Regions from separate parts of the Homo sapiens genome. Here regions 2, 3, 4 and 5 are each linked to region 1. The links come from fine-mapping of genetic effects on gene expression. A gene starts in region 1. Each other region holds a variant in brackets. All regions are shown on one strand. Distances are from middle to middle.

What was found. PIP is the estimated chance that this variant, and not a neighbour inherited with it, causes the effect.
Region 2: its variant is the best candidate, but not a certain one, in a credible set for the expression of MTERF2 in whole blood (TOPMed, PIP 0.64).
Region 3: its variant is the best candidate, but not a certain one, in a credible set for the expression of MTERF2 in sun-exposed skin (GTEx, PIP 0.57).
Region 4: its variant is the best candidate, but not a certain one, in a credible set for the expression of MTERF2 in whole blood (TOPMed, PIP 0.69).
Region 5: its variant is the best candidate, but not a certain one, in a credible set for the expression of MTERF2 in whole blood (INTERVAL, PIP 0.61).

Annotation. Positions count from the first base shown.
Region 1 is chr12:106,984,618-106,989,723 of GRCh38, forward strand. MTERF2 (mitochondrial transcription termination factor 2) reads right to left here and starts at 2,529. Exons shown (of 3, transcript NM_001033050.3): 1 at 2,352-2,529; 2 at 498-608.
Region 2 is chr12:106,946,655-106,951,760 of GRCh38, forward strand. No RefSeq gene overlaps it. Among named protein-coding and RNA genes, the nearest start is that of TMEM263-DT, 6.3 kb to the right of the region's middle. The variant A/G (reference allele first, on the strand shown) is at 3,119.
Region 3 is chr12:107,007,400-107,012,505 of GRCh38, forward strand. The region is part of intron 2 of CRY1 (cryptochrome circadian regulator 1); the gene reads right to left. Among named protein-coding and RNA genes, the nearest start is that of MTERF2, 23 kb to the left of the region's middle. The variant G/A (reference allele first, on the strand shown) is at 3,115.
Region 4 is chr12:106,927,688-106,932,793 of GRCh38, forward strand. No RefSeq gene overlaps it. Among named protein-coding and RNA genes, the nearest start is that of TMEM263-DT, 25 kb to the right of the region's middle. The variant T/C (reference allele first, on the strand shown) is at 2,091.
Region 5 is chr12:107,661,008-107,666,113 of GRCh38, forward strand. No RefSeq gene overlaps it. Among named protein-coding and RNA genes, the nearest start is that of PWP1, 22 kb to the right of the region's middle. The variant G/T (reference allele first, on the strand shown) is at 2,438.

The DNA of each region.
Region 1 (5,106 bases):
AGTGGGAGATAATTAAATCATAGGGGTGGTTTCCCCCATACTGTTCTCATGACAGTGAATAAGTCTCATGAGATCTGATGGTTTTATAAGGGGAAACCCCTTTCGCTTGGCTCTCACTCTTTTCTTGTCTGCCACGATGTGAGATGTGCCTTTCACCTTCCGCCATGATTGTGAGGTCTCCCCAACCACGTGGCACTGTAAGTCCATTAAACCTCTTGCTTTTGTAAATTGCCCAGTCTTGGCTATGTCTTTATCAGCAGCATGAAAAAGGACTAATACAAGCCATGAGCCACCACACCCAGCCTTCCTTATCTCTTTTGACTTCTGCAGCTTTTAGCAGAGTTGACCACTTTCTCCTTGAAATATTCTCTCATTTGACTTCCTGGACACTCGACTTTTTTTGATTCTTCTCCCTTTCTATACTTCTCGCCACCCTCTATCTGTCTCCCATACAAGCTCACCTTCAAGGCTTGGTTCTAGACCTCTCTTCTTCTTACCTTACAGTCTCTCCCCACAGATCTTGTCCTCATCCAGATATTCAGTTCATCCACTTGGGATTCTTTCCAACTTCTTCTCAAAATGTGATCTTGTCAGTTCCCTGCAATAAACTTGCCAATGGCATTTTAGGATAAAGACAAAGTAAAATAAAACATAGAAATGCCTTACCATGGCCTACAAGGCCTCTTTGGGCTCTGCCACCACCCTAATTCCCATTTCCCTCTCCTGCACCAGCTGCATTTGCTTCCTGTCAGTCCCTGGTGCTCTACTGGTTTCTACCATGTGGTCTTTGAAGACTGTGGGCCAGATTCCATGCCCAAAATGCTCCAACTTTTAGGCCTAAGTGTCACTTTCTCAAGGAAACTTTTCTAACCTTCACGAATACATGAAGCCTCCTGTCCCCATTACATGATTTCATGGCACCATGGACTTTTACACTTGCGCACAAGTGGTACAACAGCTGCAGCTGTTCACGTGTTGTTTCTGTCTCAACACTACATGGACAGACTGGTCACCACAGTGTTCCAATGAACTGCTTCCCTATCCTTCACCCAGCTGCCTTCACTGCCTCTAGGAGGCATTCCTGGGCAGGTGGCCTTCTGTGTGCTCTTCCACAGCACCCTGCTCCGGACGCTACTGCAGCACTTATTATGCTCTTACAAGTTCTTCATTCTTCCAACCAGTAGGAATTTTGTTGCTGTTTGTTTGAAGTTCAAGCTGTGTATCAGGCATACTAGGCACAGATCTGCTAAAACAACACTTCTTCACACCTCTGTTTGGATCACAGATCAACTCAGAACCTGAGAGTCACAGACTCTCTTTCCAGAAGAAAAGACCCACGCTCACAACATTTCGCAAATGATTTTAGCAGGATTCATGGACACCCTGCAGCCCGGCCATGAATGACCTGCACTAGATTTACAAGCGTTGGGAAGGCAGGAACTGAACGGTGTTCTGCTTTATTCCCTGCACCCAGCAAAGAACTTGTTCCACAGAGAGACAAAATTAGTATTTGTCAGGTGAAACTGAGTGAACAAGTGGATGCGGTACATTAATGCAGTGGGTAAAACTGGGTTAGCAGAGCCAGACTGCCTGATTCCTGGACAACAGTTGTGTTGTGACTTGAAGAAGTTACTTCACCTCTCTGAGCCTCAGTTTGGCATCAGGAAAATGGTGATACTATCTCCTGGGTGACTGCAAAGATCAAACGAGTTAATACCATAAATCACTTAGAATATGCAGAAAACTCTTCACATATACTAAATCATTAAATCATCACAACAACTCATTTTAAAATGAGGAAACAGACGCAGGTAAAGGAACTTGCCCAAGGTTACTCAGCTAAAAAAAAAAACAAAAAACAAAAAACCGGCAGAATTTGGACTCAAACCCCACAGGTTGGCTCCAGAGTCCTGCCTGCTCTTAGCCCTGTGCCCCCACATATAGCAATGCTTTTGGTAAATGTTTGTTAAATCACAATGTGGGCTGTTCTAGGATGCTTGTTTCTTAAGCATTTTTGGGGAGTGAAATTCACTTCTGTAATACACAGTTATGGTTAGTATGGTCTTCTCTACACCACCACTGGTTTCAATAAAGTTCTTCTTTCGTAACACATATGCCCTGCTGCCAGTTTCAAATTGACCAACGTTTATAAGCAAGGAAAAACGAGGGTCCACGGAAGATCTCCAGGACCGATCAAAAGGCCGCACATTCACTGTGGGGCCTCCGCTTTTCCAGAGAAACCCGGCAGGCTGAGCTGAGCGTCTGGCGAGGCGTGGGGTTTTGCGGGCCCTGACCGCTGCGGCGCCGCTGGTGAGGAACACGCCCAGGAGCAGAGGAAGGGGGCGACTCACCCGTCGGCGTCAGCTCCAAGCAAGGCACAGGGAGTCCCGGGGGCCAGGCCCCGTCCTTCCCTCTCTCTCCGGCCAGCCTCCCCACAGTCCGCAGTCCCCGAGGCCTGGAGCCGGGATTTCGGTCCTCGGTCTCAAGAAGCTCCCGACAGTTCTCAGCAGCGCCAACCAGGCCATCAGTCCCTTCGCCCATGGCCAATCAGGGCTCGGGAGATGACCGCCAACCCCCGCCCCCCCAAGACACGCCCCCGCGTCCCAACGCAGCCAGTCAGAGCGCGGGACACAACTACGCGTCCCTCCCCGCACCACGAGGGCGAGTCGGAGTGGGAATCGGCTTTCCAGGCAGCCCAGCCTGTGCTGGCGGGGGCATCTGGCATTTTCACACCCTTTCCTTCCCAGCATTTTAGGAAGCGGAGTTCCAGTAGCTTTGACGCTTAGAAAATATAAGAAAAAAAAGAAGTAACAGAAACCGCTATATCTTTAAGATAGAGCCAATCACTGTTCCCAAAATAATTCAGTTAGGTAAAGAACCAACTTACAAAAGAAATGTTTAAAAAACCCCCAAAGTTCTTTGAAACACATCTGAACTCTTCCCCGCCCCCACCCTACCCCAGCAGTTAGCGACTGTCTTTAAAAGCCATTCTCCTTTCTCTCCCTCCTTGCCACCTTCACCTAAATACTCCCCTTTTCTGATAAACTGCCAAGTGGTTTCCATTCTAATTATTACCGGTGATGCCCAACCTCATACACTAAACACGTTAATTTCTCCTTAAAGCCAGGCTGAATGTCTCTCTCATTTATTTTCACATTTATCCATCCAAAAAACAAGTATTTATGGCAGGCCTGCTAAGTGCCAAGCATATTGAAACAGCAATGAGAAAATAGAGGGGGAATAAAACACATTCCCTGTCCTTATGGAGCTTACATTCTAGTGGAGGGCAGAGATATCAACAACTAATAACGTGACTAATCACACCTAGTTAAGTGTTATCGAGGACAGGGTGCCCTGAGCTGGGCCTGGTGATTCTGTTTGTGTGGAGTTGGAGTCAGGAAAACTGGTTTTCCCAGCTGGAGGTGTCTGCTGTCAGGTGTTCGTAGCACACTGTGCACAGTTCTGCCGTCGGTGGCACTGGCATACAGACTGCCCTCGCACCCTGTGGAGTGAATTCCTTGAGGCTACTGATTATTTTTTCTGTCAACAATGCTGGGCACACAGTAGGAACTCAGGAAATGTTAACTAAATCTTTGAGTCTAGTCTCACTATGCAGTTTAGGCTCAACAGGCTATATTGAGAGGAGCTCACACGTGCATTTAACTCCACTGAGTAGCAGCAAGAATCCTGGCTCCTCAAGATCACCCACCTCTGATCTCTAGGATATTCTAGAATGATCTGAGCAACTCATGTGTACAGCTGGGGGGTGTTTGTCCAGCAACTCCTGAGTTATCCGAATATAAAAACTCTATTATGCATAGATTTATTGCACACTTTTTCCTGAAATAAAATGATTTGGGGTCCAGACTAACCAAAGTGTGTCATTTGCACTTAGGAAAAGGAAATTAGGATACAGAAAAGGAAGTTAAGGAATGTAAACTCAGGACTTAGAACTGCAAGCTGCCATCACTGGTCAGGAGGGAGGGAGCAGAAATGTGCACCAGGGTGCTGGAAGCTTGTATTAGGGCTCCACGTAATTGTGCAAGGAATTACAATACATATGACCCCGTGCATTGTAATCAAAACTTGAAACTGACAAATCAGCTATGCCAACTGTATTAAATAAATGCTACTCAAAGTTTTTTCCAGCCCAAATATTTAAACAGTGCATTTCTAGGACCATATAATCAGAAAAAAAACCTTGAATGAAGAAAAGGGGAAAAGAACTTACAATTATGCATATTATGTACAAGAAAATTACAAACACATTTGAATTGTGAGAAGATCCTGAAATTTCTAGTATGTAAGAGATGCATTAAAAATACTGATAGACTTTTATATCTCAAATTTACTTATTTATTTTAAGCAAATATGAAAAACATAAGGACTTTGTACAGTTCATTCAAAACCCTGGTTCTCTCAATATAATTTTCCCAAGTTGTCAGTACAGTTTTTGGCAATAAGAATTGAAGAAGTATTTGCTGAATGAGTAAAATGTCTTAAATCCCTTAACCACAAGTAGGATTTCTAGTTAAGGGGAGAACACTGATTCGAACATCATGTATCTGCTCAAGTAGAGCATGATGACTGATGCCTTTTCTTTCCCTTTCAGTGATTCATTTTGACCACTATTTACACCAAACTGAAAAAGCTTTCCAAAAAACTCCCTAATAAAAAAAAAATCCTCTTACATTTATAAATAGCATACCAGTGCTTATGCTGAGATAGTGTTCTTTTACTGTTTATTTATTCACATTAAAACTGAATCTTTGGCCGTGCGCGGTGGCTCATGCCTGTAATCCCAGCACTTTGGGAGGCCGAGGCCAGCGGATCATGAGGTCAGGAGATCGCGACCATTCTGGCTAACGGTGAAACCCTGTCTCTACTAAAAAATACAAAAAATTAGCCGGGCGTGATGGCACGCGCCTGTAGTCCCAACTACTCGGGAGGCTGAGGCAGGAGAATCGCTTGAACCCAGGAGGCAGATGCCGCAGTGAGCCGAGATCGTGCCACTGCACTCCAGCCTGGGCGACAGAGTGAGACTCTGTCTCAAAATAACAACAAGAAAACTGAAATCTATGACCTCTTGTACGGTGATGGTAAATC
Region 2 (5,106 bases), 38 kb before region 1:
ATCATTCTGTTTTGGGTTGGGTTTATAGTTTTATAAACCTCATGCCATATGTTGACATCTTATAGTATTTGGCAGGGATAAGTATGGAACTGCTTGATCAATAAATATAAAAAATGCTGAAAATTCTTAAGACATTTCTAATATTACTTTACCAATAATTTGAAAGCCAGCTTATTTATTAAATATTTTACTTGTATCACATAAACTTGAAAGACATTTGGGTTTTTCTGTGTGTGTGGTGGCTCGATGTGTGCTGACTGTGAGCAGGACTCTACAGTGTTCCACCACTGAATTGTTTCTGCCCTCTTAGATGTCTGTTTCTCTCTCTGGAATTCTATTACCTCCAAGAGGGCTCAAAATGCCAAGTGATCAGCTCTTATATGTGTTTCCTGGAAGAGCCTTTCTAAACTAATTTTCTTGGGGGTTCCCTGTAGGGCCATTGCACGTCTCAGGAAGTCAACCCCCAGACACTTTTACTTCGTCCCCAGTCACCCAGGAGCACCTTTCAGCTGGGAGGAACAAAATGCCCTTTTTCTTCAGAGCTGAGGACCTCAGTCTCATTTATCTATGAAAATAACAGTTCAGTTCCTCACACAAATGCACAGACAAACCAATTGAGCTTAATTTTGGAAGAAAAAGCAACGGAGAAGACTTCTTAGAATGCACCTCCAAACCGGAAACCAAATGAGGTGCCCAAAAAGGGGTCCTTCTCCTTGTCTTTAGAAAAAGGCAATGGAGAACACCTTTAGAATGCACCTCCGAACTAGACAGGGATCCCAAATAACTTTCTAGGAGGAAAAAAAAAAAAAACTCAAGAATAAATCAAGGACCATCAGCCAAATGGGAGGTCCAGTGCTCAGAAGGACCTAACAATTCCACTGGAGGAAATGCTCAAAGTTGGGGAGAACTATCATTGGGCCCCTGCTGGTACCTTAGCTCCAAGTTCAGCCAATTCCTTCAGGGCTCTGAGTCTTCTCTGAGGCCTGATGTTAGGTGCCAAATTATTGTAAGTGAAAGAGCCAAACTCTGTAAATTATTTGAAGAGATTTATTCTGAGCCAAATGAGTGACCAATGGCCCATGACACAGCCCTCAGGAGATCCTGAGAACATGTGCCCAAAGTGGTTGGGCTACAACTTGGTTTTATACATTTCAGGGAGACATAAGACATCAATCAATACATGTAAGATGTACATTGTTTCAGCCACAAAGGCGGGACAACTGAAAGCAGGTATGGGGGGTGAGAGGACTTCCAGGTCATAGGCAGATTCAAAGATTTTCTGATTGGCAATTGATTATTGTCTAAAGACCTGGTATTGATAGAAAGGAATGTCTGGGTTATGATAAGGAGTTGTGGAGACCAGGTTGTAGTATGTAGATAAAGCCTCTAGGAAGCAGGCTTCAGAGGTAATAGATTGTAAATGTTTCTTATTAAAGAGTCTCTTCTGTCAGTCTGAAAATCTCTGTGTTGATGTTAATGCTGGTCAGGTGTGAGGCATGTCCAACAACCACTTCCCATCCTGGCCTGAACTAGTTTTTCAGGTTAACTTTGGAATGCCCTTGGCTGAGGAGGGGTTTGTTCAGATGGTTAGGGGGCTAAGAATTTTATTTTTGTCTTACACTATTAACTAGCACAGCGACTCTAAAACGTTAATTATTCTCTTGGCAAATAAGTGATTAGGCTCATGTAAGGATGTGCCCTGAAAGCAAGAAAGGAAAGTGGGTCAAGTAGTCACTGATACAAATTTTAATTTGGCAGTTTTAGATCTAGGAAGAGATTAATGTTGGCTCCTTCACACTCTGAGGATTGGTGGCTATTTCCCTTACATTCAATGTGAATATGAAGGACAGATTTCAAATGGTCCCCTAAAACAGTTTCTCCCTCTCTTAGAACTCATTTGCATTTGCAAACTGAAATTAGTGTTTCAAGTTAGAATTCCATCTACCCTGGTTGCAGAAGACTTAAGATGTTTTTATGCCCTCAGCCTTTTCTTCATCTGTAAATGACGGACCACCTCCCTCAGAATGCATACAGCATTACCTAAACCATGGGGTGGGCCATTGTTTCCAAAAGCAGGCCAAGTTGAGAGGCTCTCTTACTGTAATTCACATAAATCCTAGTCAAACCATATTGCATTCTGGGGTCACGTTGAAAATGTCAACTTGGTAAATCTCCCTTCTCATGGTAAATGTACATGTTCTTTCAACCTGGCTATTGCAGATGACAATAAAGACCCTATTGTTCAGCTTTGGGCTGCTCTATTCTATCTTTTTAAAGCTCCACCTTGTCTATCTTCACCAATCCCCATTTAACTTTTTACCATCGATAAGGCATAAATTATGCTGTGTGGGCTCTGCCACCACTTTGGGTGCCTTGCTCCAAGGTGAAATGGAAGCTTATCATTAGTCCTCTCCCTAGTCCTAACATCTATACTGGATGCAGGTAGAAAATAGTAATGATTCCGCTCTCATAATTTATAAGTATCATGCTGACGTCCTTAAAAAAGTAGGTATTCAATTCTTATTAAAATATAACTTCCCTCCTCTCCCTGCTGCAGAAGCTTTCTTCAGCCCACATCCATATCTATCTTTTCTGCACTCATTCAGTCCTCTTTTTTTACTCAATTTGGCCTTTATTTGTATTACCCTTTAACGATCTTTAAATGCTTAATGTGCACATGTCCCTCTTCACATGGCGGCAGGAAGGAGAAGTGCCGAGCAAAGGAGGAAAAGTCCCTTTATAAAACCACCAGATCTCATGAGAACTCACTCACTATCATAAGAACAGTATGGGGGTAACAGCCCCCATGATTCAATTACCTCCCACCAGGTCCCTCCCACAACACATAGAGATTATGGGAACTACAATTCAAGATGAGATTTGGGTGGGGATACAGCCAAACTGTATCAAGGATAGAACCAAGGGTAGAAACCAGACTCAAACTGGGTACTGAAGTTGCTCTACTGGTTACTGTAGAGGTAAGGGCACTTGAGAGAAGAAACTAGCCAACAGTGGTCAAGTATGGTAAGCAATTAGGCAAAAACATAAGAACAAATTGAACATCTTTAAACTCAGGTTGTATTACTGAAACTACTGTGAAGTGCTGCCCATTAGGAGT[A/G]TAAGAGGCTGCTCACCTTTGGGCCAGTCTTCATATTCATGGTGTCAGGTAGCTCTACCTCATCACAACTCTTTTTTCCCATTCCAACATCTTTCTTTTTCAAGTCAAAATTATTAAGGTATAATTTACACACAGCAAAACTGCTCTATTTAGTGTACAAATCTATGAGTTTTGGCAGATGCATACATTCTGTAACCCACACACATCACAGTCAAGATATCCAACAGTTCCATTACCCCTCCCCAATTCTCTTAAGCTCCACTTTATAGTCAACTCCTCTCACCTCACAGGCAACCACTGATCTCTTTTCTCTTTTTATGGTTTTGCCTTTTCCAGAATGTCATATAAATGGAATACAGTATGAAGACTTTTTAATCTTGCATCTCTCACTTAGAATAATGCACTTGAGATTTATTTGTGTGTAGGAGCAGTTTGTTCCTTTTATATGCTGAGTAGATTCTATTGTATATATGTACCACGGTTTGCTTATCCATTCACAAATTAAAGGGCATTTAGGGTGTTTCTAGTTTTAGATGATTATAAAATATGTTCAGGTTTTTGTGTGAACATGTTTTCATTTCTCTTGGGTAAATATCTAGGAGTAGGATTTCTAGGTCATATCACAAGTGTATGCATAACTTTATAGGAAACTCCCAAACCATTTCCCAAGTGTATGTACCCCTCTGCATTCCCACCAACAACATCTGAGAGTTTTAGTTTCTGTCCATCATCAATAGCTTTTGAAATTATTTTTATTTCAACCAAGTAGTGATCACTGTGGCTTTGATTTGCATTTCCCTAATGACTACTATAGTAAATAGACTACAGCAACAAAAGGAACAAACTACTCCTACACACAACATAAATACATCTCAAATCCATTATTCTAAGTGAAAGATGCAAGACTAAAAATGCTTCATACTGTATTCCATTTATATGACATTCTGGAAAAGGCAAAACCATAAGGAGAGAAAACAGATGAGAGGTTGCCTCGGGGTGGGAGGGGTTGCGCATCTTTTCATATGCTTATTTGCCATCCATGTATCTCCTTTGGTAAAGTGATTGTTCAATTATTCACACATTTTAAAACTGGATTGTCTTCTGAGTTGTAAGATTGTTTCACATATTCAGAATACAGTCACTTAATAGGTATGTTTTGGCTGGGAGCGGTGGCTCACGCTTGTAATCCCAGCACTTTAGGAGGCTGAGGCAGGCGGATCATGAGGTCGGGAGATGGAGACCATCCTGGCTAACATAGTGAAACCCCGTCTCTACTAAAAAACAAACAAACAAACAAACAAACGAAAATTAGCTGGGCATGGTGGCAGGCGCCTGCAGTCCCAGCTATTCGGGAGGCTAAGGTAGGAGAATGGCGTGAATCCAGGAGGCAGAGCTTGCAGTGAGCCGAGATTGTGCACTGCACTTCAGCCTGGGTGACAGTGCGAGACTCCGTCTCAAAGAAAAAAAAAAAAAAGGTATGTTTTGCAAATATTTTCTCCCAGTCTGTTGCTTGTTCTTTTGTTTTCTTAAGTGACATCCAAAGAGCAAGTGTTATCCAAACAGCAAGTTTTTATAAATTTCTTTCTTTCATGGATTGTGTTTTTTGTTGTACCTAAGAAAACTCTGCCTAATTCAAGATCATAAAAATGTTCTCCTATGTTTTCTTCTAAAAGTTTTATATTTTCACATTTAGGTCTATGATCCATTTTGAATTATTTTGCATATGGTGAAAGGCATGAGTTTATAGGTGTTAAGCTTTTGTTTTAAAAATGATGTCCAATTATTCCAACATGTGCTTCTTTTCACTATCTTTTAATAAGGCTCAATTTAGCAGACACTCTATATATGATCCACAAAAAGAAAGGGAACCTTCTAGCTTTGGTGTGACAATCCTATGGCTGGAGATGAAAGGGCAGTTTCCAGTCCTTTGACTGGCAGAAATACCTAATAAGTATGCTTTCTACTCCATAGAAATGCATGATATAGAA
Region 3 (5,106 bases), 23 kb after region 1:
ACAGTGATGTGAAAAAATTAACCATATTATTGGGTTGCTAAAGAATTAAATAACATAATGCATATAGAGTGTTTAGGACAGAGCACAATGCATAGCAAGCCCTCAATGAATGACAGGAACTCTTTTTCTTCTTTTTTTTTTTTTTTAAGAGTTAGGCTCCCACTCTGTTGCCCAAGCTGGAGTGCAATGGTGCAATCATAGCTCATTGCAACCTCAGACTCCAGGACTTGAGCAATTCTCCCACCTCAACCTCCCGAGTAGCTAGGACTACAGGCATGCACCACCATAACCAGCTAACTTAATTTTTTTTCGTAAAGACAGGGTCTCACTGTATTGCCCAAGCTAGTCTCAAAATCCTGCCCTCAAGAGATCCTCCTTCCTCAGCCTCCCAACGTGCTGGGATTACAGACGAGAGCCAATGTGCCTAGTGCAATTTAGCACTGTTTTTTGAAAAACATTATTTTAAATCTTAGTAAATACTGAAGTGAGTCAATAAATAACACTTCCTGCCCCTTTTCCTTCTTGAGTTCAGTCACGTAAGCCAGGGGGCTAAAGATAAAAATATCAGCCATATTATTAGCAAAGCTGAATTGTAGAAAACATACCAGGTTTCAGGGCAGGTAAACTTGCTAATACTATTTCACTGTTGAATCAAACAGATTTACCTACTCAATCATAAGCAGCACCTCCCGCAGTGTGGGCTTTCCCTATAAAACGTATCACATAGAAGAGGAGAATATAACGTGTGCTCTCTACAACTAAAAGAAAAGGAACCGTCTCAGCTAAACTAGCCCAGCTCCTTCTCCTAAACTCACCAATGAGATCATTCACTTTTCCTTCCCTGGGGATAAATTAGTGAACATCTCTCCAAAAGAAAAATGAAAATCTAGGGAAGAGAAAGTTTCCCAAAATTAAATGCATTCAGTAATACACTAAGTATTTATTATAATTCTAATTATATGACAGATATTATGCTAGATGCCCCTCTCCTGGAGCTTATTGAGAAAGAGTGGCAATACAGAGGTAAATTACTGAATACGTAACTATTAGGGAAAAAAATGCTATGATAAAGAATACGGGGATGGGGTATGAGGTGGTAAGCTAATAATCCACACTCTGTCTTCCATGACTGCACTGGCTAGACTTCAAGTAATTTGTAAAAGCAAATATCCTTGTTTTTTCCTATCTTGGGTAGAAAGCATTCAGTGTTTCACCTTTAAGTAAGATTTTATGTTTTTTTGTAGACTTCCTTTATCAAATTGCTATTTAGCACTTGATATGGTTTGGCTGTGTCCCCACCCAAATCTCATTTTGAATTGCAGCTCCCATAATCCCCACATGTCATGGGAGGGACCCAGTGGGAGGTAACTGAATCATGGGGGTGGGTTTCGCCCGTGCTGTTCTCATGATAGTGAATAAGTCTCACAAGGTCTGATGGTTTTTTTAAAGGGCAGTTCCCCTACCCATGCTCTCTTGCCAGCTGCCATGTAACATGTGCCTTTGCTCCTCCATCTTCCACTAGGATTGTGAGGCCTCCCCAGTCACGTGAAACTGTGAGTCAATTACATCTCTTTCCTTTATAAATTACCCAGTCTCAGGTATGTCTTTATTTGCAGTGTGAGAACAAACTAATATAGCACTTTAAAGAATTTCTAGTTAGCTAAAAGACCTTTTTAAAAAGTATACACGGGTGTTGAATTATGTCAGATGCGTTCTCTTCATTTGTTAAGATAATTTCTCTTTTCCTTTATCCTATTAACCCAGTAGGTTATATTAATTGATTTTTTTAATGCTCAACCAACTTTGTATTCATGAGATAAACCCCACTTGATCCTGAAGTAGCAGTATTTTAAAATATTGCAGGCTGGGCACGGTGGCTCACACCAGTGAGCTCTTTGGGAGGCTGAGGCAGGCGGATAGCCTGAGCTCAGGAGTTTGAGACCACTCTGGGCAACATGGTGAAACCCCGTCTCCAATAAAGATACAACAATTAGCCAGACGTGGTGGTGGGTGCCTGTAATTCCAGCTACTCAGGAGGCTGAGGCAGGAGAATTGCTTGAACCCGGGAGGTAGACGTTGCAGTGAGCCAAGGTTGTACCACTGCACTCCAGCCTGGGCGACAGAGCAAGACTCCATCTCAGAAAAAACAAAAAAACAAAAAAACATATATATATATATATATATATATATATATATATATATAAAATCTCTATATCTCCAGGTTCACGGTCCGGTACGGTGGCTCATACCTGTAATTCCAGCACTTTGGGAAGTCAACATGGGAGGATGGCTTGAGCACAGGAGTTCGAGCTCAGCCTAGGTAAATATAATGAGACCACATAGTGTCTTTACAAAAAAAACTTTTTTTAAATAAAAAATATTGCTAGATTCAATTTAGTGATTTCTGAGTCTTTGTTTATGGGGGACACTTGGCTATACTTTTAATTTTTTCTCAAACTTTCCTTGTCAGGTTGTGGTATCAGGGTTATGCTGTCCTCATAAAATGAGTTGGGAAGTAATCTCAATCTTGTTTTCTGAAAGAGTTTAATTTAAGAAGGAAATACTTCCTTCTTAAATGTGTGATATAACTCAAAATAAAGCCATCTAAGGGCTTGAAGTTTGTTTATGGGAAGGTTTTTAATTACAAATTCAATTTATTTAAGAGATATAGGGCTATTCAGGTTTTCTTTTTCTTCTTATGAGAGTTCTAGTAAATTATACCTTTCAAGAAATTTTTTCATCTCAGATATATAATTTATTGACAGTATAGTGTTTACGATATTCTTTACTATGCTTTTAAAGTCTGGAGAATCTCTAGTGATGTCCTCTTTCTTATTCCTGATATAGGTAACTTGTATTTTCTTTCTTTTTTGTCCGAATCAGTATTAAGAGTTTATCAATTTTATTAATGTTTTCAAAGAACCCGTTTTTGGCTTTGTTGACTAACAGGAGACAAAAATCACATCAGCAATTTGAACATGAAAAATTTACAAGGGCAACTCATTTTATTGTGCTTTGCTATTTATTGCACTTCTCAGATATTGTGCATTTTATAAATCAAAGGCTAACGGCAACCCTGCACTAAGCAATTCTATTGGTGCCATTTTCCCAAAA[G/A]CATGTGCTCACCTCGTGTCTCTGTGTCACATTTTATCAATTCTCACAGTATTTCAAACTTTTTCATTATTATATCTGTTATGATGACCTGTGATCTCTTCTCTTTTTTTTTAAGAGACGTGGTTTCACTGTATCACCCAGGCTGGTCTTGAACTCCTGGCCTCAAGTGATCCTCCCATTTCAGCCTCCTGAGTAGCTGGCACTACAGGTACCAGTCACTACACCCAGCTTTTATCAGAGATCTCTGATGCTACTATTGTAATTGTTTTGGGGTGCCATGAATTGCACCCATAAAAGAGGGTGAACTTAACTGATAAATGTAGTGTGGTCTGTCTGCCCTACCCAGCCTTTCCCCCATCTCTTTCACCCTCTCTCCCTCTCCTCAGGCCTCCTTATTCCCTGAGACAACAATATTGAAATTAGGCCAGTTAGTAACCCTACAATGGTCTCTAAGTGTTCAAGTGAAACGAGGAGTCACACATCTCTCACTTTCAACCAAAAGCTAGAAATAAGCTTAGTGAGGAAGGCATGTTGAAAGGTGAGACAGGCCAGGCTGGGCGCAGTGGCTCACGCATGTAATCCCAGCACTTTGGGAGGCCAAGGCGGGCGGATCACGAGGTCAGGAGTTCCAGACCAGCCTGGCAACATGGTAAAACCCTGTCTCTACTAAAAACAAACAAACAAACAAAAACTGGGCATGGTGGCATGTGCCTGTAATCCCAGCTACTCGGGAGGCTGAGGCAGGAGAATCGTTTGAACCCGGAAAGCGGAGTTTGCAGTGAGCTGAGATCGAGCCATTGCACTCCAGCCTGGGCAACAGGGCAAGACTCTGTCTCAAAAAACAAACAAAAAAAAAAAACAAAAAAGAAAGCTGAGGCAGGCCAAAAGCTAGGCCATTTGCACCAGTTAGCCAAGATGTCTAAACAAAGGAAAAGTTCTTGAAGGAAATTAAAAGTGCTACTCCAATGAACACATGAATCATAAAAAAAAACAAAGCAGCCTTAATGGCGATATGGAGAAAACTTTAGGGGTCTGGATAGAAGATCAAACCAGATACAATACTCCCTTAAAGCATAGTCCTAATCCAGAGAGAGGCCCTAACACTCTTCGATTCTGTGAAGGCTGAGAGAGGTGAGGAAGCTGCAGAAGGAAAGTTGGAAGCTAGCAGAGGTTGGTTCATAAGGTTTAAGCAAAGAAGCTGTCTCCATAACCTAAAAGTACAAAGTGAAGCAACAAGTGCTGGGTGGAGAAGTAGCAAGTTATCCAGATCTATCTAAGATAATGAATTAAGGTGGCTACACTAAACTACAGATTTTCAGTGTTGATGAAGCAGCCTTCTATTGGAAGAAGATGTCATCTAGGACTTTCATAGCTAGACAGAAAAAGTCAATGCCAGGCCAGGCACTGTGGCTCATGCCTGTAATCCCAGCACTTTGGGAAGCTGAGGCAGGCAGATGCTTGAGGTCAGGAGTTCGAGACCAGTCTGGCCAACATGGTGAAACCCTGTCTCTACTAAAAATACAAAATTTAGCCGGGCATGGTGGTGCACGCCTGCAGTCCAAGCTACTCAGGAGGCTGAGGCAGGAGAATCAATTGAGCCCAGGAGGCGAAGGCTGCAGTGAGCCAAGATCGTGCCACTGCACTGCAGCGTGGGTGACAGAGGAAGACTCCGTCTCAAAAATAAAAAAAGAAGAAAAAGTCAATGCCTAGCTTCAAAGCTTCAAAGGACAGGCTGACTTTCTTGTGAGGGGCTAACATAGCTGGTGACTTTAAGTTGAAGCCAATTCTCATTGCCCATTCTAAAACTCCTAGGTCCCTTGAGAACTATGCTAAATCTACTCTGCCTGTGCAGAACAGGAACAACAAAGCCTGGATGACAGCACATGTGTTTACAACATGGTTTATACATATTTTAAGCTCTCTGTTGAGACCTACTACTCAGAAAGAAAGACTCCTTTAAAAATATCACTGCTCACAGACAAACGTACTTTG
Region 4 (5,106 bases), 57 kb before region 1:
TGGTGTTTGGTGTTTTTCTCACATACAGACTGGGGTTACAGACTACTGAAAGACCACAGAGACAAGTTTTATTCTCATCACAATCACATCAAGGGCACATGATATCAACATGACTTATCATTGATGATGTTAACTTTGATGATCTGGCTGAGGTAGAGTTTACCAGGTTTCTCCACCATAAAGTTACATTTTTCCTCCCCTTTTCATGCCCTGTGTTTGGAAGCCCAGAACATATTCAAGTGTGGGAAGGGAATTAAGCTCTATCTCCTTGAGGGAGAAGTACGTATTTAAATTATTTGGCATTCTTCTGTATGGCACATTTGTTTCTTCTTCCCTATTTATTTATTTATTTATTCCTTTATTAATTGTAGATAGATGCATGGATATGTATTTTATACTTTGAGGTCTATTGTAATACTATGTTATTTATTTTGTTGCTCAAATTCTTCCAGGTTTGGCTATTGGAAGCTCTTTTGTGTTGGCTCCTATGTCTTTTTGACATGCCTCCATCCTTTTGCTCTGAGCACATCTCGATTTCCTGGGACTAACAGATGTTTCAGGCTCATTTTGTATGTTCCCTGCCCTAACCCTAAAATCAGCCACTTCTCCAAGCCCTAGATCCTTTTCTTGAAGAATGGACTTAGAAATAAGCACTGGATGCCATTTTTCACATTTTAATATTTGGTCCATTTGGAACTTATCCTGGTACATAGTGCGAAGAATGGGTCTAATTTTACCTTTATTCATATGGCTAACCAATTATTCCAACAGCATTTATTAAGAAGTCCAGGCTGGACACAGTGGCTCATGTCTATAATCCTAGCACTTTGGTAGACTGAGGCAGGAGGCTCACTTGAGCCCAGGAGTTCTATACTAAACTGGGCAACATAGACCCCATCTCTACAAAAAATGTTTTAAAAATTGGGTGTAGTGGTGCACATCTGTAGTCTCAGCTACTCAGGAGGTTGAGGCAGGGAAATCACTTGAGCCCAGGAGTTCAAGGCTGCAGTGAGCTATAATAGCATGACTGCACCCTTGGATGACAGAGCCAGTCACTATCTACCCCAAAAATTAAAAATTAAAAAACCATAAAGTCTATTTTTCTCCCACTGCTTTGAGATGCCATCTTTATCATACACTAGATTTTCATATGCAATTGCCTCTTTTTCTGGCTTTTCCATTCTGTTCCATTGGTTGATCTGTCTGTTAATGCACCATTACCCTACTAGTTTACTTATACATGATTTATAATATTTGTTTTAATATCTGATAAGATTAAACTTGTTACTGCTCTTCTTTTCTGGATTTTCCTATTTGTTCTTATTTGGTCTTTCATATGAACTTTATTATCAACCTGTCTAGTTCCAGCAAAAAGAATCTGATGGTAGTTTTATTGAGATTGTGATTATTTTATATATTAATTTAAGGAGTAATGATATCTTTATAACATTGAGTCTTCCTATACAAATTCATTGTATGTCTCTCTATTTGTCTTATGTCTTTCAAAAGTGTTTAGTATAGTTTTCTTCATATAGGAACATTCCCTGTTATTTATTCCCTATTAATTCATTTGTTCATCCATTCATTTACACTATGATAAATGGGATATTTGCCATCATACCTTCTATTAATACTAGCTGTTGCTTGTGTATGTGAAGGCTGTTGCTATCTGAAGTCTTACTGAATTCTCTTCTTGTTTATGGTATCTCTTCAGCTGACTCTCTTTGGTTTCCTGGAGTTATAAGTATTCATATTTGCAAATGGTATGAGTCGTACTTCTTCCTTTCCAAGTTTTACATCGCTAATTTTGTCCTCTTGTTTTCTTGCATTCACAAATACCTTTTTTCAGTATGGTGGCATTCTTTGACTTATTGTGATGATAGATCATTTTGATGATATCTATTGAGGAAATGCCCTCAATAGATAAAAGGTTTGAAGGTTTTTTTTTTTGCAACGTGTGTGTGTGTGCACATGCAAGTGTATTTTGACCAGGTCAAGCATGTATCTATTTCTACTTTAATGGCTTTTAAAATCAACAATAAGTGTCAAATTTTCTCAGATATCTTTTCAGCATCTTGAAGATGATTATA[T/C]GATTTTTTCTCCCTAACCTCTTTATTTTATTATTGATTCTTCAAATGTAAATCCTACTTGCATTCCTAAAATAAGTGCTACTTGGTCATGATGTATTATTTTTTAATAGGCTACCAGATGCTCTTTGATTCTATTTTATTTGAGATTTTTTTCATTGATATTTATAATTAATATTAATCTGTACTTCTCACTTTGCCAGGTTTTGGTATTGTTATATGCACTTCATAAAAGCAGTTTGGTACTACGCAAAGCAAAATACAGATTCAATGCAATCTCTATCAAAATACCAATGATATTGTTTACAGAAACGGAAAAAGAAGTGTAAAATTTATATAGAACAAAAGACTCCAGATAGCCAAAGCAATCCTGAGCAAAAAGAACAAACCTGGAGGCATCACACACTACCAGACTCCAAAATATACTACAAAGCCATGGTTACCAAAACAGCAAAGTACTCGCATAAAAACAGACACATAGACCAATAGAAAAGAATAGAGGACAGGTAAATTAATTAAAGTATCTATAGCCAACTTATTTTTGACAAAGGCACTGAGAACACTCATTGGGGAAAGGCCAATGTCTTCAACTAATGGTGCTGGAAAAACTGAATATCCATATGCAGAATGAAACTAGACTCCTATCTCTCACCATATACAAAAATCAACTCAAAATGGATCAGACCTAAATATAAGACCCAAAATTATAAAACTACAGGAAGAAAACATAGGGGAGGAACTTCAGGACATTGGTCTAGAAACAGATTTTGCTAATAAGACCCCAAAAGCATAGGCAACAAAAGCAAAAACAAACAAATGGGATTATATCAAACTAACAATCTTCTGTACAGCAAAGGAAACAATCAGCAGAGTGAAAAAACAACCTACAGAATGGGAGAAAATATTTGCAAATTATTCATATGACAGGGGTTAATAGCCAGAATAGACAAGGAGTTCAAACATTTCAACAGCAAAAAATAAACAATCTGATTTTAAAATAGGCAAATGATCTGAATAAACATTTCTCAAAAGAAGATACACAAATGGTCAACAAATGTATGAAAACATACTCAACATCACTAATCATCAGAGAAATGCAAATCAAAACCACAATGAGGTATCATCTCACCCCAGTTAGGACGGGTATTATCAAAAACACAAAAAATAACAAATACAAGTGAGGATGCAGAGTGACTGTTTAGGGGCATAGATTTCTTTTTGTTGAGAAGAAATGTTCTAAAATTAGATAGTGGTGATGTTTGCACAACTCTGTAAATACAGTATACTAAAAAGCACTGAACTGTACACTTTCAATGGATAGATCTTTTGGTATGTCAATTATATCTCCATAAAGCTGTTATTAAAAAACAAAAGTTGGCTGGGCATGGTGGCTCACACCTGTAATTCTAGCACTTTGGGAGGCTGAGGTGGGAGGATTGCTTGATCCTAGAAGTTCAAGACCAACATGGGCAACATAGCAAGACCCTCATCTCTTTAAAAAAAAAAAAAAATTAGCCAGGCATGGTGATGCAGAGTTGTAGTCCTAGCTACTTGGAGGCTGAGGCAGGAGGATTGCTTGAGCCCAGGAGTTCAAGGCTGCAGTAAGCTATGACTGCACCACTGCACTCCAGCCTGGGCAATAGAGTGAGACTCTGTCTCAGAAAAAAGTTGGATGGAGGAGGCGCCATGTGCTGTTGGTATTAGTGCTGTCAGGCTGCTTTTGATTCTTCAGCACCCAGTTGTCTCAAACCCTTTGCCACTTCTACTGAAGACTAGGATCTTGCCAGGAAAATGTCTGATGAATTTTCTATGGCAAATGCTCTACCTGAACACTTCCCTGACCAGGTCCTGCTGTGATTAATAGAAATCTAGTCAACCTCCTTAAGGCCGGCCAGATTCCAAACCTTGGAAGAACCCATGTGCTGTGCCTTCTATGCCATCTGGACTCCCGCCAAGTGCAACACTCTTCATTGTACCTTTCGGACCTTTGCTAACAGGATTGCATCCCTCTGTGCCTCCCACTGGACTGCCTCTGGGAACCCAAGAACTCTTCCTCTTTCTGGACCATCCTGCTCCCCAACTAATGGTCCTTACCCAACTTCAACTGTGATGCACCTGGACCCCACAGGCCATATCCTATGCCAAAAATGCCCTTTCTAGAGCTTCCCAGACCATATGGTGCTTTCACAGGTCTCACAAGTCGTGCTGCAACTGGTATTTTAGGTCCATGAAAATCCACGTTTCCGAACCATGGGCACCAGAAATGAGAAGGCAGCATCCTACTCTAAACATGCCACATGTACATCTAGAGCCATATCTTACTCATCCTCCTCCCCGGCACCAGGGCAGTGTCATCTTTCCCAGTGGGGCTCTGTCCTATGTAGACCACCAGTACCACAGACTATATCCCACACAAGTCTCTATCCTATTCATCGTAATTCTTTTCAAGTTCCTTTGGGACCTTCTGCCTGGTAGCCTCATTCTTACCCATTCTTACCATTAAGTTAAAAATGGATAAAGGGATAGCATTTTGCTTTTGAAAGCACACACACTGTATATATATATATATATATATATATATATATATATATATATATATATATAGTGTATATACTATAGGCTGTCTTTTCATTTCACAGGCAAACCTTTCATTTGTTAAAAAAAAAAGGCAGTATCTGTGAATTGCAATAAAGTGCAATAAAATGAGTTATGCCTGTATATATACTGGATGCGTATATACACAGTATATGTAGTATATATATGTAACATATGTATATACTTATATACTACATTTGTATATAGTAGGCCAATTAATAGGCCAAATAAACCAATTAATAACCTTATGATGGCCTCTACGTGTTCAAGAGAAAGGAATAGTTGCAAGTCTCTCACTTTTAATCAAAAGCTAGAAATGATGAAGCATAATGAGAAAGGCATGGCAAAAGCTGAGACAGGGCAAAAGCTAGGCCTCTTGTGCCAAACAATTAGCAAAGGTGTGAGTGCAAAAGAAAACTCTTGA
Region 5 (5,106 bases), 680 kb after region 1:
CTGCTTTTGGATCTCACATTGTTTCTTCCTGTAAAGCCCTTGGCAAAAAGTGCTATCCGACTGTATGTTGTCATACCAAGACTTTCATCACACAGTGTTTTGCCAACATCAGACTGTGCGGATAAAGGGTTCTTTGAGAAAATCTATTTCACGAGTCTTGGGTCCTCTGCCTTCAGAATTCAGCACCCACCTCCCTCCACCCCCACCTTCAGTCACAGACGAATGAATAGTCGCAGAAGTGCTCACATCCTCCCGCTTCTAGTTCTTTCTGCCTAGCCCCTACACAGTCTCCAAGGCCAGCAGTTTCCTGGGTTTCTCCACTCAGGGAGACATCTATTGCGCACCTTCTGTTGGCAGCACTGATTGCTGAGCCCTGGACTCCAGCACAGACGTGAAAACCCTGTTCCAACTGGATCCAACCCCTGACTAGCTTTGAGACTTTGGACAAGTTACTTACTCTATCTAGTATTCACCTTCCTCTTTCAAAAAAAAAAAAATGGGTTTAACTATAACTAGTGGCCGGCCGCTGTGGCTCACGCCTGTAATCTCAACACTTTGGGAGGCCAAGGTGGGCAGATCACTTGAGATCAGCAGTTCAAGACCAGCCTGGCCAACATGGCAAAACCCCATCTCTACTAAAAAATACAAAAATTAACGGGGCGTGGTGGCAGGCACCTGCAATCCCAGCTACTCAGGAGGCTGAGGCAGGAGAATCGGTTGAACCTGGGAGGCAGAGGTTGCAGTGAACCAAGATTGTGCCACTGCACTCCAGCCTGGGCAACAGAGCAAGACTCCGTCTCAAAAAGGAAAAAAAACAAAAAACAAAAACCTATAACTAGTGAATAGTGGTGTTGGGAGGATTAAAGGAGATATTTTGTACGAGTCCCACACTGTTAGTAGCAGGGAAAAGGCTTTTCTAAACTTCTAAGACTGAGCAGAAGGAAGGGGAAATTGATGATTCATACAAGGAAAGGAAGGCTAATGACTTTGCCTTCATTTCTAGAACTTTCTACAGCAGCGGTTCCCATGGTGATTTGTGATTCTCTAGGGTTTTGCTACTTATTCCGAGGAGTATAGGGAAATTCCCCCCAAACTGAGCTCTTTTGTGATTCTAGTTCCTAGCACAGTGCTTCACACAAAGTAATCAAGAAATGTTTGCAAATGGAAGCCAAGTACACCTGGATTTCCTTTCTTATAAACATCATATTTTCAAAAGATTAGAGTTGCAGGGATTCACTCTTCCAAATTTCTTGTCTACACAGGAATGTGAGATTCACATGTGTGACTTGGATGACACGAGACTCCCATGGTGTGTGTCTAAGGTCCAAGACCCCACAAATGGCTGAGCAGGGCCCACGCCCGCCAGAGCCAACTCTCAGTCCAGGGCTTGAGGACCACAGCTCTGTGGAGAGGGAGAGGGTAGCCACAAACCCCCAAATGAAACAAACTGCTAGATATCCCTCCAGAAAAATCTGGGACTGCTGTCCTCATCAAGTTAGTAGGCAAACCCATATGCCCTGTGCTGCCACTTGAGTGTGTGGACACTCATCCCCCACCCCTCCACCAAGAAACCTCCCTGGTGGAACTTCACGTCACCTCTGTTCCTCCCAGCCTAGCCAATGCCTTGAATAAAGCAGCACGTGCCTTTGGCCGGGGCCATTGCAGAAGCTGCTATGATGCCTATTTTTTCCACCCTCTTTAAAAATAACCCAACAGATTTTGAACTTCCTGCTTGGCAGAAAAAAATAGAACTCATACTCAGCAATCACATTGCGCTTTAGTTCCCATCACTGATGAGGCAGGCAGATAACGAGTGCCCTGTGAAAGGACACATCTCCAAGTTTAGCCCTGAATCTGAAAAGACAATCTGTCTGCGTGAATAGGCAATTAGAAGACATGCCCTGATGTCATTGGTGCGTTCTTTGGATGTTGCTTTTCAGAGCTAACCTTCAGATGAGTTCTGAATTTTAATGCTACGGAAAACCTCTGGGATGAAGAGCTACAAAGGGAAGAGGCTGATTGGTACAATGGAGGGGCTCTGTGCTGGGCACCACATCTCACCCCTGACCCTGAATCTGTCATCTGCTACCTGGGTGACCTTGGCCAGGCCTCTTCTCCATCTGGACCTGTTTCCTCAACTCCTTCTGACTTGATGTCCTGTGGGCCTAGACTGGAACCTGTCACACTCTCCTTACCACACTCCTATATTAGAACCTTGTGAGAACATCATTTTGTGTAATAGAACATTCCAGATTGCATCCAGGAGGATTTAGCAAAAGGGACCTTTTTCATCATTTCACAATGATGCCTTCAGCAAAACAGGCTCCCAGCAGGAAACCAGATAAAAGCGTTAGAATGAGGCTTCACCTATCTCACCATGAAGATGGCATCTCTCTAGATCATTGCTACATGACTACCATCTCCTTTTTGGTTTGGG[G/T]TTTTTTTTTTTCACTTTTTATTTTGAAACAATTACAGATTCGCAGGAAGTTGCAAAGATAGTACAGAGTAACCCAATGGTAACATCTTAGATAAATTTAGTACAATATCCAAACCAGGAAGTTGACATCGCTACAATGTGTGTGTATGGTTCTGTGACATCTTGCCACGTGTGGATTCGTGTAACCACCACCACTGTCACTCTTCCCTCACCGCAAAGATCTCCCTCATGCTACCCCTTTGGAATCACTCTGGCCCTTCCTCCACCAACTTCATCCCAAACCCCTGGCAACCATTAATCTGTTTTCCATCTCTATAGTTTTGTTATTTCAAGAATGTTATGTAAATGAGACCATATAGTAAGCAGCCTTTGGAGATTGGTGTTTTTATTATTATTATTATTATTGACACACGGTTTCATTCTGTCGCGCAGGCTGGAGTGCAGTGGTGTGATTTCAACTCACTGCAACCTCCGCCTCCCAGGCTCAAGAATCCTCCCGACTCAGTCTCCCAAGTAGCTGGAACCACAGACATGAGCCACCATGCCCAGCTAATTTTTATTTATTTATTTATTTATTTTTGTAGAGATAGGGATTTTACCATGTTGCCCAGGCTGGTGTCAAACTCCTGGGCTCAAGCAATCCTCCCACCTCAGTATCCTGAGTAGCGGGACAACAGGCATGCACCACCACTACCAGATCACTTTTTAAAAAAATTTTCTGTAGAGACAGGGTCTCGCTATGTTGCCAGGACTGGTCTCAAACTCCCGAGCTCAAGCAATCTGTCTGCCTCAGCCTCCCAAAATGCTGGGATTACGGGTGTTAGCACCTCAAACGGCGAGACTGGCTTTTTGCACCCAGCAGAATGCCTCAGAGACCCATCCAAGGAGCCTGCACGTATGGAATGCTTGTTCCTTTTCATTGATGAGTAGCATTCCCCGGTATCCTGTCACCTTTTAACCAGAGAGAGACAGGGGCTTTCTCTGTCACCCAGGCTGGATTACAGTGGCGTGGTCACGGCTCACTGCAGCCTCAACCTCCCCAGGCTCAAGCTATCCTCCAACCTCAGCCTCCAGAGTAGCCACAGGTGGAAGCCTCCACGCCTGGCTAATTTTTTTATTTTTTGTAGAGATTAGGTCATACTATGTTGTCCAGGCTGCTCCCAAACTAGGTCTTTCTGTAATTGATGACTTCTAGACATCTCACTGATGGTGTAGGGCAGTGCTTCTCGAATTTGTTAAAATGACTCCATGGGGCTGGGGTGGGGCTTGAAATTCATTGTTTCTAACAAGCATCCCAGCGCTGCTGCTGCTGCTGCTGGTCCAGGGACCTCACTTTGAGTAGCAAAGGTGTGCAGTCTGGAAGTCAGAGATTCATCTCAAACCCTTTCTGCTGCCAGGCCAACCTGTGACACTTGTTCTGTCACCTGGCCTTTCTGGAGTCTCAACCTTGAGGGTTATTACGAGCCTTTCTTTCTGACCCAGGGGAGACGTTTTCACAATGCATCTGAAAAAAAATCATTTGAAATTCTATCTTCCAAAACCAAACACCGCATGTTCTCACTCATAAGTGAGAGATGAACAATGAGAACACATGGACACAGCAAAGGGAACATCACACACCAGGGCCTGTCGGGGGGTGGGAGCAAGGGGAGGGAAAGCATTAGGACAAATATCTAATGCATTCGGGGCTTAAAACCTAGATGACAGGTTGATGGGTGCAGCAAATCACAGGAAGGAGAACATCAGACACTGGGGCCTGTCGTGGGGTGGGGGGAGGGGGGAGGGATAGCATTAGGAGATATACCTAATGTAAATGACAAGTTAATGGGTGCAGCACACCAACATGGCACATGTGTACCTATGTAACGAACCTGCATGTTCTGCACGTGTACCCTAGAACTTAAAGTATAATTTTAAAAATAAATAAATGTAATCCTGTCTTCCTAGGTGGAGGGCTCTAACAGTCTGAATTAAGCTAAGGAATTACTCACACATAACCTCACTCTACCTTACTTTTCCCTGGTCTGTTGTTTATCTAAATCAAGTTTATTTATTTCACGGGTATTTACTGATGCCCTAATATAAATGAGAGACCCACTCCTGTGCAATGGCATTAACCAAAGGTAACCAAAGGTGACCTCATCCCTTTTCTTTGTCCTGTTTCCTTCAGGGTTGGCGGCAGAAGGAAAAGAAAAGATTCCTGTTTATTTTCAGACTATGCTTCGAGGCTTCTCTCTGCACTCACAGAGCCCCCTGGGGTGGCAGGGACACCCAGGAGAATCAACAAGGGAATAATCAAAGCTGCTGCCCCTTCCCTGTTCACTTCACAACACTTTGATAATGGAGAGGGACGCTGGAGTATCTGGTTCAAAATGGCTGCTGGGTGACCCTGATACTTCTCAGTTGTATGCTATGGGGAATGAGTGGGTGGGGAAGAAGAAAAAGTGGTAGGATTTTAATCCATAATTACTCATTATTTTGTTTACTTGTGAAGGGAACGACTGCATTTTTGGCACTTCAAAGGACTTGCTTTCATACATTAAATATTTTGTTTGAGGAAGGGAAAAGCTCAGATAGTGTTTTCTGTTGAATAAGTAATGAGAAAGTAAATGAAGTCTGTTTTTTCTAGAAATTCCTTGAGCCAAGGAATGATTCCTTGCCCCTAAAAT